Linked DNA regions of Homo sapiens: region 2 is linked to region 1. A link means that fine-mapping ties the variant in region 1 to the expression of a gene that starts in the linked region. Tissue or cell type: whole blood. Region 1 holds a variant in brackets; the other region holds the start of a gene. All regions are shown on one strand. Distances are from middle to middle.

The links. PIP is the estimated chance that this variant, and not a neighbour inherited with it, causes the effect.
Region 2: ZNF337 starts here. The variant in region 1 is fine-mapped to the expression of ZNF337 in whole blood (TOPMed, PIP above 0.99).

What each region holds. Positions count from the first base shown.
Region 1 is chr20:25,290,249-25,298,352 of GRCh38, reverse strand. It overlaps PYGB (glycogen phosphorylase B), which reads right to left. Exons shown (of 20, transcript NM_002862.4): 16 at 7,731-7,872; 17 at 5,740-5,947; 18 at 4,061-4,195; 19 at 2,683-2,749; 20 at 341-1,983. The coding sequence ends at 1,831. It also overlaps a transcript of ABHD12 not described here. Among named protein-coding and RNA genes, the nearest start is that of PYGB, 46 kb to the right of the region's middle. RefSeq lists enhancers at 2,184-2,705, 3,751-4,273. The variant C/G (reference allele first, on the strand shown) is at 3,933.
Region 2 is chr20:25,692,888-25,700,991 of GRCh38, reverse strand. It overlaps ZNF337 (zinc finger protein 337), which reads left to right and starts at 4,139. Exons shown (of 5, transcript NM_015655.4): 1 at 4,139-4,233. It overlaps LOC107985400 (a long non-coding RNA gene), which reads right to left and starts at 3,951. Exons shown (of 2, transcript XR_007067557.1): 1 at 3,829-3,951. RefSeq lists an enhancer at 4,626-4,735.

The sequences.
Region 1 (8,104 bases):
CGGAGGTTGCAGCGAGCCAAGACCGTGCCACTGCACTCCAGCCTGGGCAACAAAAGCAAAACTCCATCTCAAAAACAAAAAAACAAAACTAGCCGTTCAGGCACACATGACCCCGGGTTCCACACCTAGTGGAGATGCAAACTTTTCTGCCCTCAATCCCAGAATGATGGGGTGTAATTCAGCCCCGGCTCTAGTTTCAGACGGGGGACCTGTGGCCCACTTGCAGGTCTCATCCCTGCACTGGCACCACCCTGGGCCTCAGGCCTGTGTTCTCTGCTTCCCACAGTCTCATACCACCACCTGCAGTTAGTTAGTTAGTTAGTGAAACACAGACCCCATGTCAGCCAACCACAGCCACAAAGGTTTAATCAGTTTTTATCTCACAAGGCAGTAACAATGAGGGGCACAGTGGTGGTCAGGGTGGTGGCCCCAGTGGCCAACTAGGGGAGTATGGCCTCCTCCACAGAGCCGCTGCCTGGGGAAGATGCTGTCAGGGCACGACCACAGCCCAGCACTTGCCCCACTCAATAAAAGGCTGTAGTGCTCTGGTGGGCTGTGCACCGTGCGCAGATCCTCCTGGTGGGCACTGGAGGCCAGGGAGAAAAAGAGCCTCCCCGCAGCCCAGATCCAGCATGCAAGGTGCTAGATTTCTCGGCAATTCCACAGGGAAGGACAGTAGCCTGTTCCCTGCCCTCTCTCTTGGGCAATGGGAGGCAGGTTGCCAGCCTTGGGGAGGGGCAAGGCTGTGAGGGGCTCACCCCCACCTCCCAGTGCCAGGCCTGCTGTCCAAGCAGAGCACAAATGGGTTCCTCCGGGACCCCTGGTCCTTTTTCCAGACGAGGCTGTGGCACTGGTGGAAAGGGAGGGAGAATGGAGCCTGGCCCTTGTGTGTACAACAGGAAATGCACCTCAGGACACAGCAGGAGTCAGCGGGAGGGCACAGACCTGCCCCCTGCCAGGCAGAAAATGGGCCTCCTCAAGCACAAAAGTGACCAAGTACAATTTTCAGTTGCTAAAACAAGAAAAGGCTTCAGCTAGTTTCATTTCCATGTGTAGTTATTTTCTCTTTTGAATAAGCAAAACCAAGCTAAGCTGTGTCAGCCAACTTCATCCTGACCAAGGCCTCTGAGACAGCAGACACAAGCACCCACTCCAGTGTCCCCCTCAGTCATCCCGGGTTCCAAGCACCCACACAATGCCCATTGGATGGCTACAAAGGGAAAGCCCCATCTGGGTCCATGACCCATATACCAGGTGCAGAGCCAGGACAGAGGGCAGGGGGCAGGGGGCTGTGAAGGCGATGCCTAGAGGATCCGACCCCTCCCGGCATGGCCAGGAGGCAGGGCTGGGCAGGATGACTGGGGCTACATGGGGCTTGGCCCTTCCCTGTGGCTGGCAGCCCAGATGCTGCAGTAACACTCATTCCCAGGCTTCACTATGGCCACTGGCCCAGACCCCAGAATCCAGAGGCTCAACACTAAAGACATCGGCTAATACATAGCAAGATGTGTGCAAAGTTCTGGGGGAGCCCAGCAGGTGGCTCCACCTGACTCCCACTCTGGGTGGGGCAGGTGCTGAAGCTGCAGGGCTGGCCACGACCCTTTGTACTGTCAACTCTGGCTTCCTTTACAAGAAACTAGGAGCACTTCTAGCACATTCCTTCCTTACCCTGCTCTCTCAAAACCACCCTGACCCCCATGGCCCCTCCTGGAAACATGGTACTCAGAAAAGCAGGGACCACCAGTGGCTGGCAAAGTGTTTGGGGAAAAAAGGAGGTGCAAAGTCAGCAAGAAAACAAATGCCCGCTGGTCCCGCCAAGGCAGGGTGTGCCTAGTCCCGGGGGATGTTGGGGGGCGGGATCTGCAGGTCGGAGGGCTCCACACCCCAGATCTCCCGTGCATACTCCGTGATGGTCCGGTCACTGGAGAACTTGCCCGAGCAGGCGATGTTCCTGATGACCTTCTTGGTCCACTCCTTGGGGTTCTGCAGGGAAGGAGATGAAATTAGTCTCTGGCGTCACAGGGCTTGGGGCTGCTAAAAACATGGGATTCCAGAACTTTAGGACTGTTTCCAAATGAGCTCCGAGCCTTGGGGCCATCCGCTGGAAGAGGAGGACATTACAATCACTTGTTCGTTGAAAAGGGGACCCCACGGACCAGGAAAGCTACCGCATTCTAGATCTAGGGAGCAAGGAGCTGGAGAGAAGGTCCCAGCCTCGAAAATTCCTGCTAGGGCATGGCCCCCAGGACGACGATAGGGATAGCACCAGGTAAGAACTGCCCAGGCAGATCCAGTGCCAGGGGACATGCCCAGGCAGTCTCCTTCCACCAGGGAGCCTCACAGCTGCCACAAGCTGCAGGTCACACCAGGCCAGCCTTTCCTCGAGGCCAGCCCTGACTGAGGGAAGAGAAGGTCCCTCCCAGGGCCCTGCCCGTCACTCAGTTTCCAGGCCGCACATTCCTTTCTTGGCCATTAGGAGCTGTTTTTTTCAACGGAGGGAGTGACATTGACAGTGACAGCTTCCCTAAAGGCAGGCACAGCCGACTGATGACAGATCAGAATCACAAACCCCTCTGGCCCAGGCCAAGAATCTACTCAGCTTGGGAAATAAACAATCTGACCCAACACGTCTACATGGACCCACCCAGCTGCTCCCCTAGCCTCTGGACCCAGGAGCCTCACCCGGTACAGCTGGTCCACCTGTGCCTGGCACTGCATGTAGGCTTCATAGTCTGCAAACACCTTGAACCTGGAATGGGAGAAAGGAGGCTGGGCCAGGGCAGCAGGGAGCCCTGCCCACACTGTCCCGAGGGGAGAGTCCCAGGGCAGGAGGCCAGGCACCATCCACCTGGTCCTGTCTGGAGCGAAGGGGCCCACCCACGCAGCTGGTCAGAGCCAGGCTGCACCAGGCCCATTTGGCCACAGGGCTTCTCTGTGAGCAACACTTATGTCCTGGGACAATATTTTAGAAAAACCTTATTTCAACCCAACACTCCTTTAAATAAACTGGCATTTAAAACGTGTCTTCCACACGCAGGGCAGTTAGAGCTGCACATGGGAGAGGCCTCCTGGGCAGACAGTGGAGAGCCCATGGCGCCGCCTCAGGGCAGGGGGCACTTGCTGGGGAACGGCATCTCCATTTGCCGTCTTAAGTCTAACTGGGATTTGCCTACACAGGAAATACTGACTTGCAGTTCCTGATGTGCTGAACAAAAATGCCAGATTTATGAATCTACAAATGCATTTCTGTTCACTATCGAGTCAGAAGCACACTTCACGAAATGCAGAGTTCACAATTTTAAAAGCACTTCCTTTATCACAGACCTCAGCAGGGCCCAGGTTCCAGCCCAGATCCCAGCATGTGGTCAGAGCTGGTGTGACTGAAGCCAACAGGTGACACGGTCATCGAAGAGCAGCAGACAAAACTAAAACTAACCCAAAGGCAGCTGAAAGTGGAGGGCAGGTGAATTCCCAGCCCTCGCCGGATTCAACTTTTGCCAACGGTGAAGAACTGCCCTGAGCTGCAAACCTTACAAAGTCTGTAACTCTAGATAAACCATACCATGTGCTAACTGCACTGAAATAAAACACTAACTACATTATAATGTCACATCGTTGCAAGTGAAATCCATTTTCACCACTGCCTGTCACTGGCACTGACGCCTGCCGCGGTTCCGCAGCCCTTGTGCGCCCCCTACCCCACCCCAGGGAGTTTTGGGCCCATGCTCCCTCTACTGGCCTGCTGGGACACGGCTGCCCCTGGGACCTCCAACCAGCAGAGGACACCCCCTCCTGCTCAGCACATTGGTCCACAAGGCCTGGGGGCTGGACTGTGCTGCTGTGTCTCGCTGCCCAGGGCCCCCTGGCATTGCCAGAGGCCATCGCAAACTCCCAGCTGGGGTCTAAGGCTCTGCCCAGTAAGGTCTCATGGG[C/G]ACAGTGGAGAAGACGTCCTGAAAGCACGGGTTTTGCTCTCCAAACAAGGTGGAATATCCAACCCACGAAGAGGACCCCTCCCTCCCTCCCTCCCTCCCAGCCACCCAACCAGGGAAGTCGGTCCCACCTGTCATGGTGCATCAGCATGTTCACGATGTCCTTGAAGCAGTCTGGCTCCTTGGGAGAAAAAAAGCCACTGCTGATCTGGTCCACGGCCTGCTTCAGCTCGGGCAGGTGGTCGTAGTACTCCCTGGCATTGTACCTGTGAGGCGATGGGCCAGGAGTCAGCAGCCAGCGCCCCAGGTGGGCCACCTTGGAGAACAAGCCATGTTGGTGCCTGGCACAGCCCCTGCCCCAGGATGGCCCTGGGAGCTCAAGGCCTGCACGGTCCAGGGCAGCAGCCAGTGGCCATGGGTGGTTACGAGGCCCTTGAGCAGGGACCTGCTCGAGCAGAGATGTGAAGTCAGTCTAAAGCCAATCCCACCTGCTCCTTTGACTGTTAAAGAAATGTCATCACTAGCAGATCTGCTAGGACATAGTGGCTGATGCCACATTCCTAGTGGAGAGGGCCACTCAGAACTTGGCTCACTGTGAAATCCTGGGCAGAGCTTTTGAAAAACAGACGGCCGGAGGGGCAGGAAGTGAAATGGAGCACCTTGGCTGGGACCTCGAAGATGGAAAAGGAAAAACGCAAGCAAGACCAGACAGGACAAGGCAGAGCTAAGTGGGAGAGGGACGGACGGGCAGACATGGGCATCCCAGGACGGGGCCCGGGCAGAAGAAGCTGTGTGAGGGCGCAGAAAGGGAGCACAGGCCTCTGTGCTCGGGCCAGCAAGGCACAGCTCTGACTTCAGATGGCATGTGTGGTTTCACCTGACCCTACTTAAGGCCTCACAGGCTCCCCAGTGCTTCAAGGCAATCAGGCAACACTGCCTTTTCTTTGTAATTATCGCTTGGAATCAGGCCCGTGCTGGATTCCTCATGACGTCCAGATCATGAAGAACAAGGAAAAACTGAGAAGCTGTCACAGACCAAATGACACTGGGGAGACCTGACGGCCACACACAGTGGAGTGCCCTGATGGGATCCTGGGATGGGAAAGACAGTAACAGAACCCCGGTGGAGTTGGAATGGAGTGTGGGCTGCAGGAGGGCCAGTGCTCTGAGCTCAGTGCAGCCAACGGAGGGGCGCGGGGATAAGGTGGATGAAGCTCTGGGTGCTGTCTTCAGGATTCCCTCCTCCCCTCTGCCACCCCCCAACCCCCCCATCCCCCCCACTCCCCCACCCCCCCCGACCCTGGCCTACACATTTAAAATGTTTCCAAAATACTATTTTTAAACAATTTTAACAGTTACAACTTAGACCAGGGAACCTCAACAGCAGGCAAGCCCCAAATCAGCAGAGTGCTCCCGGCAGAGCGCCCCTGGCAGTGGGGTCCTGCCCAGCCCCAGCCCATTTCTGTGGGGCTGCCTGTGCCCAGGGGGTGTCCCTCTAGGAGACCCTCCCCAGGGGAAAAGGCCTTTCCTGGAGGAGGAGCCCCTGGTCTGGACTCCGCAGATTCAGCCTCAGAGCCGAGACAGGAGCAGCCCAGCACCCCCACGTGGGCCTCGCCCGCAGCCCGGACCCCGTCCATTCCATGCACCTGGAAATGGTCACCCCTGCAGGCAGGCACACAGCCCTGGGTGGGCACTGACCCTAGCACACAGTGGCCTGGCCCCAAGAGCCCAGTCCAGCCAATGCCCCCAGCCCAACACCCTTCATTCTCCATCCTCACGGTGCCAGGTGCCCAGGGGCACAGGCTCGCACCCTTTCCGGTCCAAGGCCTCGACATCCTCCACCCGCAGGCCGAAGATGAAGAGGTTCTCGGCCCCGGCCTCCTCGGCCATCTCCACGTTGGCGCCGTCCATGGTGCCGATGGTGAGGGCCCCGTTGAGCATGAACTTCATGTTGCCTGTGCCTGAGGCCTCGGTGCCTGCAGTGGAGATCTGCTGCGACAGATCAGCGGCCGGGATCACTGTGGAGGGGAGCCCGTGGAGGGGATCACTGTGAGGACCCCAATGTCCTCAGCCGCAAGGCTCACTGCAGGACAAGCCGGCCCATCCACCCGGGGCTGGGTCGTGGAGGGACCAATGCTGTGGCCCCGCTCCAGCCCCCACTCCCGCTCCCACAGGGGCCCAGGCTGGACACGGCCACCCGCCTCTGCAGGGCTCCCCTTCGTGACTGGGGCATCCTTGAGGCAGAAGGTCCAAGATGGGGGCTCCTCAGGAGCCAGGTGGCATAGGATCTGTGCACCAAAACCTTCCCCAAAACCAGGCCTAGCCAAGGAGCCAGTCCTGGCTCGCTGACAATGTCGTTCCCTGGATCACCGCGACCTTGATCAGCCCCAGCGGCTCCCTGGATCCTTTCAGGAGGAATGTAGACCAGAATAGAGCCAGAAGGCTGGAGCGGCTGAGGGGTGGCGACCTCCTGGGCGCCAGCAGCTGCCAGATGCCACGGCCCTGCGCTTTCTCTGTGCCTGTCCCTCAGGACTGGTCACCGCTCCCAGACACGCTGTGAGTGCACACACTGACTATACAACCTGCTCTCCACCCTCACCTCAGGCTGCAGCCCAGTCAGCCACAGCAACACTGCCGGGGAGAACGGGGCCCTGACGCCAGCACCGAGACTCCAGACCAGGTGCCTGAAGGCCTGCTCTAAAGATGAGCAGGAGTCAGCTGGCCCCAAAACACATAGGAGGAGGGGAGCCTCAGGCAGCACGGGGGAGAGGAGATGCTTCGGTCAGAGGAGCAGGGAAGGACGAGCCACAGTTCCTGGCCAAGCCGGAGGCAAGCCGGCCCGTGAGTGCCTCAAGGGACCTCGCCTGCCAGGCACCACTAAAGAGGGGGAGCGACATGGACACCAAGGCAGCAGCCAGGCCACAGGGACGGTGCCCAGGGATCCCCCCCTGCACCACGGAGCTTGCAGAACAACAGCAGATCAGCCCTCTCACCTGCGGCAGCCTGGGAAGCCCAGGCGGCCTGAACTAGGGGGGGCCCTTGGCCCTCGGCGGCAGGAGGGGAGCACGAGAAGGCCAGGCTCAGATCTCCCACCATCTGGTGGGCAAATCACTTTCCTGCCCAGTAGAGCCCACAGGGGTGGGAACTGATGGGCTCCAGGGCACATGGCAGCACATCCCAGGGTCTCCCCAGGACTGGCCCAGGCTGCCCTCAGGAAGCACAGATGAGGCAGGTGCTGCCACCTGAGATCACTGGTGGGCCCAAGAGCAGGCAGGCAGTGAGGAGCAAGGATGTGGGCGGAGGAGGGGCAGTGGAGTTGGGGGAAGCTGGGGGCCCACAACCCCACTGGCCTGGTGCATGTCCTGCCAGCAGAGGGGCCCAGGGCAGAAGACACGGCTGAGGGGCAGGAGGAGAGGGCAGGGGAGGGAGGGTACAGAGGGCAGGCCAGGCAGGTCCTGCCAGCAGAGGGGCCCAGGGCAGAAGGCACGGCTGAGGGGCAGGAGGAGAGGGCAGGGGAGGGAGGATACAGAGGGCAGGCCAGGCAGGCGCGGCAGTAAGGGTGCCCTGTTGGGGGATGACACTGCCTGTGACATGCAAGGCGCCCCGGGACGCACTGTGAGTCCTCCGCACTGCACGGGGAGCACTCCCTAAAGCCGTTCCCTGCTCGCCTGCAGCCCGGCTGGCTAGGTCTGGGTGTCCAGGCAGAGCTGAACTGGCTGAGGATGAAAGGCCCGGGGCCAGTACAACGCCCGTTCCCCGGCAGGAGTGAGTTTTCTGTCCAACACAGGCTTCCAGGGTTACCTTTCTCAGCCAAGGACACACGGTAGTTCTCCAGGAAGATCACTTTCAACCTGTCACCCACAACTGGGTCATGATTGACGACGTCGCCGATGGAGGTGACCAACTTGATGATCAGCTTGGCCATGTGGTAACCGGGCGCTGCCTGGAAGGAGAGGGTGAAGGTTTTTAGCACAAAAATGCCTTGTTCAGGCCCTTGGAGGCGCTCCTGGTTCCTGGGGTCTGTAGGGGGGTGAGGCTAGAGCCACAGGAACCTGCCGTCGGGACGGTCAGTAGAGGAGCTAGGGAGGCTCCCCGGCCCCAAGGCCCCAGCTCTGCTGCGCACTCACGATGGTGGCCACCTCGCCACATCCAGAAACGTGTCCGCCTCAAGTCTG
Region 2 (8,104 bases), 400 kb before region 1:
AGCAAACTAACACAAGGACAGAAAACCAAACACCACATGTTCTCACTCATAAGTGGGAGTTGAGCAATGAGAACACATGGACACAGGGAGAGGAACATCACACACTGGGGCCTGTCGGACCGTGGGGGTCTGGGGGAGAGATAGCATTAGGAGAAATACCTAATGTAGATGCTGGGTTTATGGCTGCAGCAAACCAGCATGGCATGTGTATACTTATGTAACAAACCTGAACGTTCTGCACATGTACCCCAGAACTTAAAGTATAATTTTAAAAAAGGTAAAATTCACAAACCTTTAGCCAGACTAAGAAAAAACAGAAGACCAAAACAAATAAAATCAGAAATGAAAAAGGAGACATTACAATTGATACCATAGAAATTTAAAGGATCATTAGAAATGATTATGAGCTACTATATGCTATTAATTTGGAAAATCTAGGAGAAACTGATACATTCCTAGATACATAAAACCTAAGATTGAACCATGAAAATATCCAAAACATGAGTAGACTAATAACAAATGAGATAGAAGCAGTATTAAAAAGTATCCCATCAAAGAAAAGCCCAGGACCTGACGGTTTCATTGCTGAATTCTACCAAACATTTTATAAAGAACTAGTATCAATCTATGCAAACTATTTAAAAAAAAGAAAGAAAGAAGGATCACTTCCAAACTCATCCTATAAGGTCAGTATTATCCTAACACCAAAACCATACAAAGATGTACAAAAAAAGAAAACTATAAGGCAATATCTCCAATAAACAGAGACACAAAAATCCTTAACAAAATGCTTGCAAACCAAATTCAACAACACATTAAAGTGATTACTCATCATGACCAAGTGGAATTCATCCCAGGAATGCAAGGATGGCTCAATATATGTAATTCAATAAATGTGATATATCATATCAAAAAAACAAAAGACAAAAACCATATGATCATCTCAATGGATACCAAAAAAGCATTTGTAAAATTCAACATCCCTTCATAATAAACACTCAAAAAAAAAAAAAACTCGGTGTAAAAGGAATATACCTCAATATTATAAAAACCATATGTGACAAACCCACAGCTAGTATCATACTGAAAAATTGAAAGCCTTTCCTGTAAGATCTGGAAGAAGACAAAGATTCCCACATTCCACACTTTTATTCAACGTAGTACTAGGAAATCTTAGCTAGAGCAATTACTGAAGACAAAGAAATAAAAGGTATTCAAATTAGAAAGGAAGAAGTGAAGTTATCCTTGTTTGCAGATGATATGATCCTATATTTAGTTAAACCTAAAGACTTCAGCCAAAAAACATTAGAATTGATTAAGAAATTCAGTAAAGTTTCAGGATACAAAATCAACATACAAAAATGGGTGGCATTTCTATATGCCAACAACAAACAATCTGAAAAAGAAATCAAGAAAGTAACCTGTTTATAAAAGTTACAAATAAAATAAAATAGCTAGGAATAAAATCAACCAAAGATGTGAACGATCTCTACAACAAAAACTATAAAACATTGATGAGAGAAATTGAAAAGGATACAAAAAATGGAAAGATAGTCCGTGTTTTTGGACTAGAAGAATTAATCTTATTAAAATGTCCATTCCACCTTGTCTACAGATTCAATGCAATCCCAATCAAAATATCAATGACATTCTTCACAGAAATAGATAAATTAATCCTAAAATTTATATGGGACCATGAAAGATCCAAAATAGCCAAAGCCATCCTGAACAAAAGTAATAAAGCTGGAGGAATCACATTACCTGACTTCAAATTATGCAAACTATAGTAATCCACACAGCAAAATGCTGGCATAAAAACAGGCACACAGACCAATGGAACAGAGTGGAGAGCCCAGAAATAAATCCACACATTTATAGTTCAACTTATATCCCACAAAGGTGCAAAGAACTTACATTGGGGAAAGACAGTCATTTCAATAAATGGCACTGCAAAAACTGGATATCCATTTGCAGAAGAATGAAATCTAAAGCAATCCCCTCACCACATATAAAAATCAAATCAAAATGGATTAAAGGTAAATCTAAGACCTGAAACTATAAAACTACTAGAAAAAAACATTGGGGAAACACTCCAGGACATTGGTGTGGACAAAGATTTCTTGAGTAAGACTGCAAAAGCACAAGCACCTAAAGCAAAAGTGGACAAATGAGACCACATCACATAAAAATCTTCTGCAAGCAAAGGAAACAATCAACAAAGTGAAGTGACAATCCACAGAATGGGAGAAAAAATTTGCAAACTATCCATCTGAAAAGAAAGTAATTGCCAGAATATATATAAGGAGCTAAAACAACTCAATAGGAAAAAGACAATCTGATATTTTAAATGGAGAAAAGATCTGAATAGGCATCTCTCAAAATAAGATATATGAACGGCCAACAAGTGTATGAAAAAAAATGCTCAATGCCACTAATCATCAGAGAAATGTAAATCAAAACCGCAATGAGATATAATGTCACCCCAGTCAAGATAGCTTTTATTCAAGAGACAGGCAATAGTGAATACTGGTGAGGGTGTGGATACACCCTCATACACTGTTGTTAGGAATGTAAATTAGTACAACCACTATGGAGAGCAGTATGGAGGTTCCTCAAAAGAATTAATAAATATATACATGATCCCGCAATCCCACTGCTGAGTATATATCCAAAAGAAAGGAAATCAGTATTTCAAGGATATATCTGCACTCTCATGTTTACTACAGCACTATCCAAAATAGTAAAGATATAGAATCAAAGTGTCTATCAACAGATGAATGGATAAGGAAAGTGTGGTACATTAACACAATGGGATATTAGCCAGTCATTAAAAGAATGAAATTCTGTCATTTTCAATAGCATGTATGAAAATGGAGGACATTATGTTAAGCGAAATGAGGCACAGCATGACAAATATCACATGTGCTCACTCATTTGTGGGGCTAAAAACGTGAACTCATGGAGATGGAGAGTAGAATGAGATAGTTAACAGAGGCTGGGAAGGATGGTGGGTAGAGGAGATAAAGAGGGACTTGTTAATCGATACAAAAATACAGTTAGAATGAATAAGATCTAGTAGTTGGTAGCACTATACAGTGACTATAGTTAAGAACAATTTTACTATATATTTAAAAATAAGAGAGAATTGGAAACTTCCTAAAACAAAGAAATGCTAAATGCTTGAGGGGATGGATACCCCAATCACCCTCATTTGACCATTAAACACTGTATGCCTGTATCAAAACATAACATGTACCCTATAAATATGTACAACTAATATTTATCCAGAATAATTAAAAATTTAAAAACCAAAAGAGAAAAAGCAAACAGCAAGTATACCTAGTAAAGGCCTGAAATATAAAGTCTACGTGGTTTGGCAAGCCACAAAAGATATCAGCATATTATACACCCTACATAATGAAAGAATTCTGGCATTGATGCATAATTAGATAAATGGGGGAACAATTAGAAATTGAAATGCAAATGTAAATTGAGTATACTGAATTATGTAGCTGAAACCTTAAATTATTTGGTAAAAGACTATATTTTTAATAAATTTAATGGGAAATTAATAAAATATTAGAAAATTTTAAAAATAATTGTATATTTACAGTGTGTACCTGGAGAAAAATTAAACCATTGAGAGATCTAAATGTGAATGATAAAACCACAAAATCCGTAGGAAAATCAGAGATCAAAAGTACTACATAGCAAAAAAAAGAAACAAAAGAAAAAAAAAAGACATACCCATAATCAAAAGACAGTGGGAAAATTATTTACCTATATCATAGAAATGGGAAAATATGCTTAATGTATGTATAGGGCTACCTAAATAAAAGAAATCGCCGGTTCTGAAAGGATCCCTCCACGTCCAAACGACCATAGGCTCGCCCCACCTGTCAGAGAGGAGTCCTTCCGAGAAGTCCTTCCAAGGATTCCGGGTCGCGCAGTCCCGGGTGGACCGCTATGACCAATATTCTGGGGCGTGTACCTGGACGACTCCCGAGGACTCTGGGGAGTGTAGTCCACCGAGGGGATGCGACGCGCAGGGTCGCATAGCCTCCGGGCCGCGCCGAGGATGCTGGGTAGCGTAGTCCCGGCCGCGCTGAGGATTCTGGGTAGTGTAGTCCCGGGCGGCGCAGAGCGTTCCAGATCCCTGGGCGTCAGCGAGCCGTGAGATGCGTGGTCCACCATCGGTGACCTCACCGCCTCGGTTCGCCCTCAGCCGCCCCGGTGAGCTGCGCTCCTGCGGGTCCCTCTCTGCAGCGCGCCCTTCCGGCGCAGGAAGAAGGGCCGGGAAGGCCTGGGACGTGAGGGCGCTGCTGGGGCCGTAGCGCGCGCTCCTCCAGGCCCGGCGTCTCCGCGTTCTGGGGAGGGGCGGAGACCCAGGCCGCGCCTTGAAGTGGGCGGTGGGGCTGCGGCTTGCCGAGCGCCCCGGGTCTGGGCCGCCACTCAGTCTCCGTTCCCGGTTGCGTGTAGTGGCGGCTCGGGCGGTGAACAGCCCGGATTTCACAGGGGCGCCGAGCAACCCAGGTCCTCTTGTGCCAGGGTCGCCGCTCCTCGGGTGGGGACGGGCCAGCGGCCTAGCGAGCTGCCACGGGGGTCTTTTGGCCGGAGGTGGAGGGGGACTCGGCCACAGCCAGGGTCCACTGGTGGGGTGGGGGTTACAGCCATGAGACGGATGGGCTAGGTCCGACTCGGGTTCCCTCCGACTCTGATGCTCCAGACTTTATTGTGGGAGGCGGGACAGGGGAGGACTTCGCCCGCGTGTTTTGGGGAAGGGCCGCTGCTTTGGGTTGGGAGCACCCCGCCTTGGGACGATCTTCCGCGGATAGGAGTGTAGGCCGGGACCAAATGTCCTCGCACGGGCACGTCTAGACGTGTTTTGGTGGGGGGGGGGGGGGATCTGCGTGGGGCAGCGTCCGCGGGAGGTGAGGTGGCTGTGGGGACCCAGGTGGCCTCTTCCCTGGGGCCTTGCTAATGACGGCAAAATCCGGGTTCTGCCAAAATATATTTAAAAAGGTTTATTCCTAGTCAGTATGAGTGACTGTGGCCCAGGTTATTCAGCCTCAAGAGGTCCTGTGAAAGTGCCCGAGATGGTCAGGCTTGCAGGTTAATTTTATACAATTCAGGGAGACAGGAATTTCAGGTAAAGTCATAAATCAGGCTGAGCAGTGTGGCTCATGCCTGTAGTCCCAGCACTTTGGGAGGCCAGGAGTTCCAGAGCAGCCTGGGCAGCACAGCAAGACCCTGTCTCTACATGAAATTAGAAAAATAAAAAAATTAGCGGGGCGTGGTGTCCCATGCCTGTGGCCTCAGCTACTTGGGAGGCCCAGTCAGTTGAGTCCAGGAGGTGGAGGCTGTAACCAGCTATGTTGGCTGCACTGCACGCTAGCCTGGGTAACACAGCGAGATCCTGCCTCCAAAAAGAAAATCATAAATCAATAAGAGAAAGATATACACGGGTTCCTCCCAAAAAGCTGGTATATCTCCAAAGGGTTTACACCTCATGGGGGCACTTAGGGATTCTTTAGTGGACAGTTGGTTGAGAGACTTAAGCTACTGCCTGAAGACTGGAATCAGAAGCATGCCAGAGTTAAGGGGATTGCGTAGATCAAAGTTCTTATTATGTAGATGAAGCCTCTTAGTTGGCAACTCTCAGAATAGATGGTAAATGTCTGTTTTCAGTTTTTTGGGTTTTTGTGTTTTTGTTTTTGTTTTTAGAGAGAGTCTTGCTCTGTCGCCCAGGCTAGAGTGCAGTGGCGTGATCTCAGCTCACTGCAACCTCCACCTCCCAGGTTTGAGCAGTTCTCCTGCCTCAGCCTCCTGAGTAGCTGGGACTACAGGCGCCCGCCACCACGCCTGGCTAATTTTTGTATTTTTAGTAGAGATGGGGTTTCACCATGTTGCTGAGGCTGGTCTTGACTTCCTGACCTCAGGTGATCCACCCACCTCTACCTCCCAAAGTGCTGGGATTACAGGCGTGAGCCACCGCGCGTCAGGCTGGCTGTCTCTTCCAGACCTAAGAAAGGCTTAGAACAAAGGAGGTCTGGCTACATTAATGGAGATTCGCTGCAGATGCAAATTTTCCCACTAAAGATAGCTTTGCGGGGCTATCCATTTCAATCTGTTGCCCCTGTGGCAGCCACTTCAAAACATGTCAAAGAAGTATATTTTGGGGTAAAATAATTTCCTTCAGCATCTGCTGTCATGTGATGCTGTACCAGAGTCAGGTTGGAAAGTGAGCCTCATTATATAAGAGTAATAAAACTCATCTGATGAGATTTTATGGTTTCTCGGGCAGGATTCCCCAAGCCTCATACATAGGCATTTGGGCAAGGGAAAAAAGGTGAATTTAGTCCTCACCAGGTTGGTAGGGCTTCCTCGGTTATTGGAGTGGGAGTAACAGCAACCATTGGGCCCAGCAGTTTTTTTAAATGTCTCTGGGGCTGTGGACTGACCATCCAAATAACTGATTTTAATCATTTCATTATGGAAAAATTGTCAGCAGAACCCCCAAGTAGAGAGACCCATCAGTCAAGATATACCTCATGACCTTGCAAGCTAATCTAGCTTGACCCAGATCCCCTCCTAATCTGTGCAGATTCATTGAGGAATGTCATAGCCATGCCTACTGGTTAAGACATAGTCCTTTACAGTGAGAGTTGAAACCCAAGCTCTATCACTTTCTTGGCTGTGTTGCTTTGAGAAAGGCATTTAAATGTTTTGTGCCTGTTTCCTCATCTGAAATTGGTGGGTAATAGTCACTTCATAGGACAGTTGTGAAGATTGAATGCAGAAAAATTTGTGCCACGCCTGGAACCGTCCCTGGCATATATTAAATTCTAAAAAAGTGTTAAATATTATAATGAATATCAACACTTCCTTATTCTGGAAGCACCGACAGGATATGCTGTGTTTAGTGTTAGCATCATGTCAGGACAGGGTCTGTTGCGATGCCCACACTCAGGATCTGTTCCCAGGAACCTGCGTAAAGTTTTCTTCTCTGGAAGACTTTGGGTCCTTTTTTTTTAACAAGAAGAGGCTCTACCCTGGGACTGGGAATTTCCAAGGCCACCTTTGAGGATCGCAGAGCTCATTTTAGAGCCATTTTAGTCCCCAGCTCCTCTTCCTCCACTCCCACGTTACCCGTGAGAGGACTGTCTGCAGGGTAAGGGAGGACAGCCCAACCCCAGGTGGGGACTTCTTATGTATTGCCTTCCTGCAGTGCCTTCTCTGCCCTAAACCATGGTGGGTTTCCTTTGCTAATGTCTGACATCTTGTGCCCTACACTGTCCCATCTGAGGCTCAGAACCTCTCAGCCGGTTCTCATGGGGAACGTTCCCCAGATCTGATGCCCTCATTCAGGACACTTCCATCATTGTCCCTACATTTCTTCTCTCAGTGCTTTATTCAGGCTGCTGCATTCGTGGTGCAGACCAGGTCTTGTAAAAAATTATTCAGTCAGCATGTGCTGAGCCATTGTCCTGTCCCAGGGACAGGGCTTTATAGTCATTGCCCTATTCATCTCTTCAACCAATGTGGAAGTTAGGAATTGGAATCCCCATTTCACAGACTAAGAAGTGGCGTGTTAATCAGTTGAAATAATTTTTACGGCTTGGCGTGGTGGCCCATACCTGTAATCCCAGCACTTTGGGAGGCCAAGGCGGGCAGATTACCTGAGGCCAGGAGTTCGAGACCAGCCTGGCCAACATGGTGAAACCTCATCTCTACTAAAAATACAGAAATTAGCCAGGCATGGTGGCTCACGCCTGTAATCCCAACTACTCTGGAGCCTGAAGCAAGATAATCGCTTGAATCCAGGAGATGGAGGTTGCAGTGAGCAGAGAACATGCCACTGCACTACAGCCTGGGGGACAGTGAGACTCTGTCTCAAAAAATAATAATTTTTACTTTATGTAACATATCTGGGATCAAGTGGACTGGGTTGTGGAGCAAGCTGGGATTTTGGGGGTTTCTGTTAAGAATTAGCTTCATTGAGGTATAATTGAGACAATAAAATTATCTCCCATTTTAAGTTCTAGTTGATGAGTTTTGAGAAATGTATATAGTGAAGTCTTGATCATCAAATCAACATATGAAC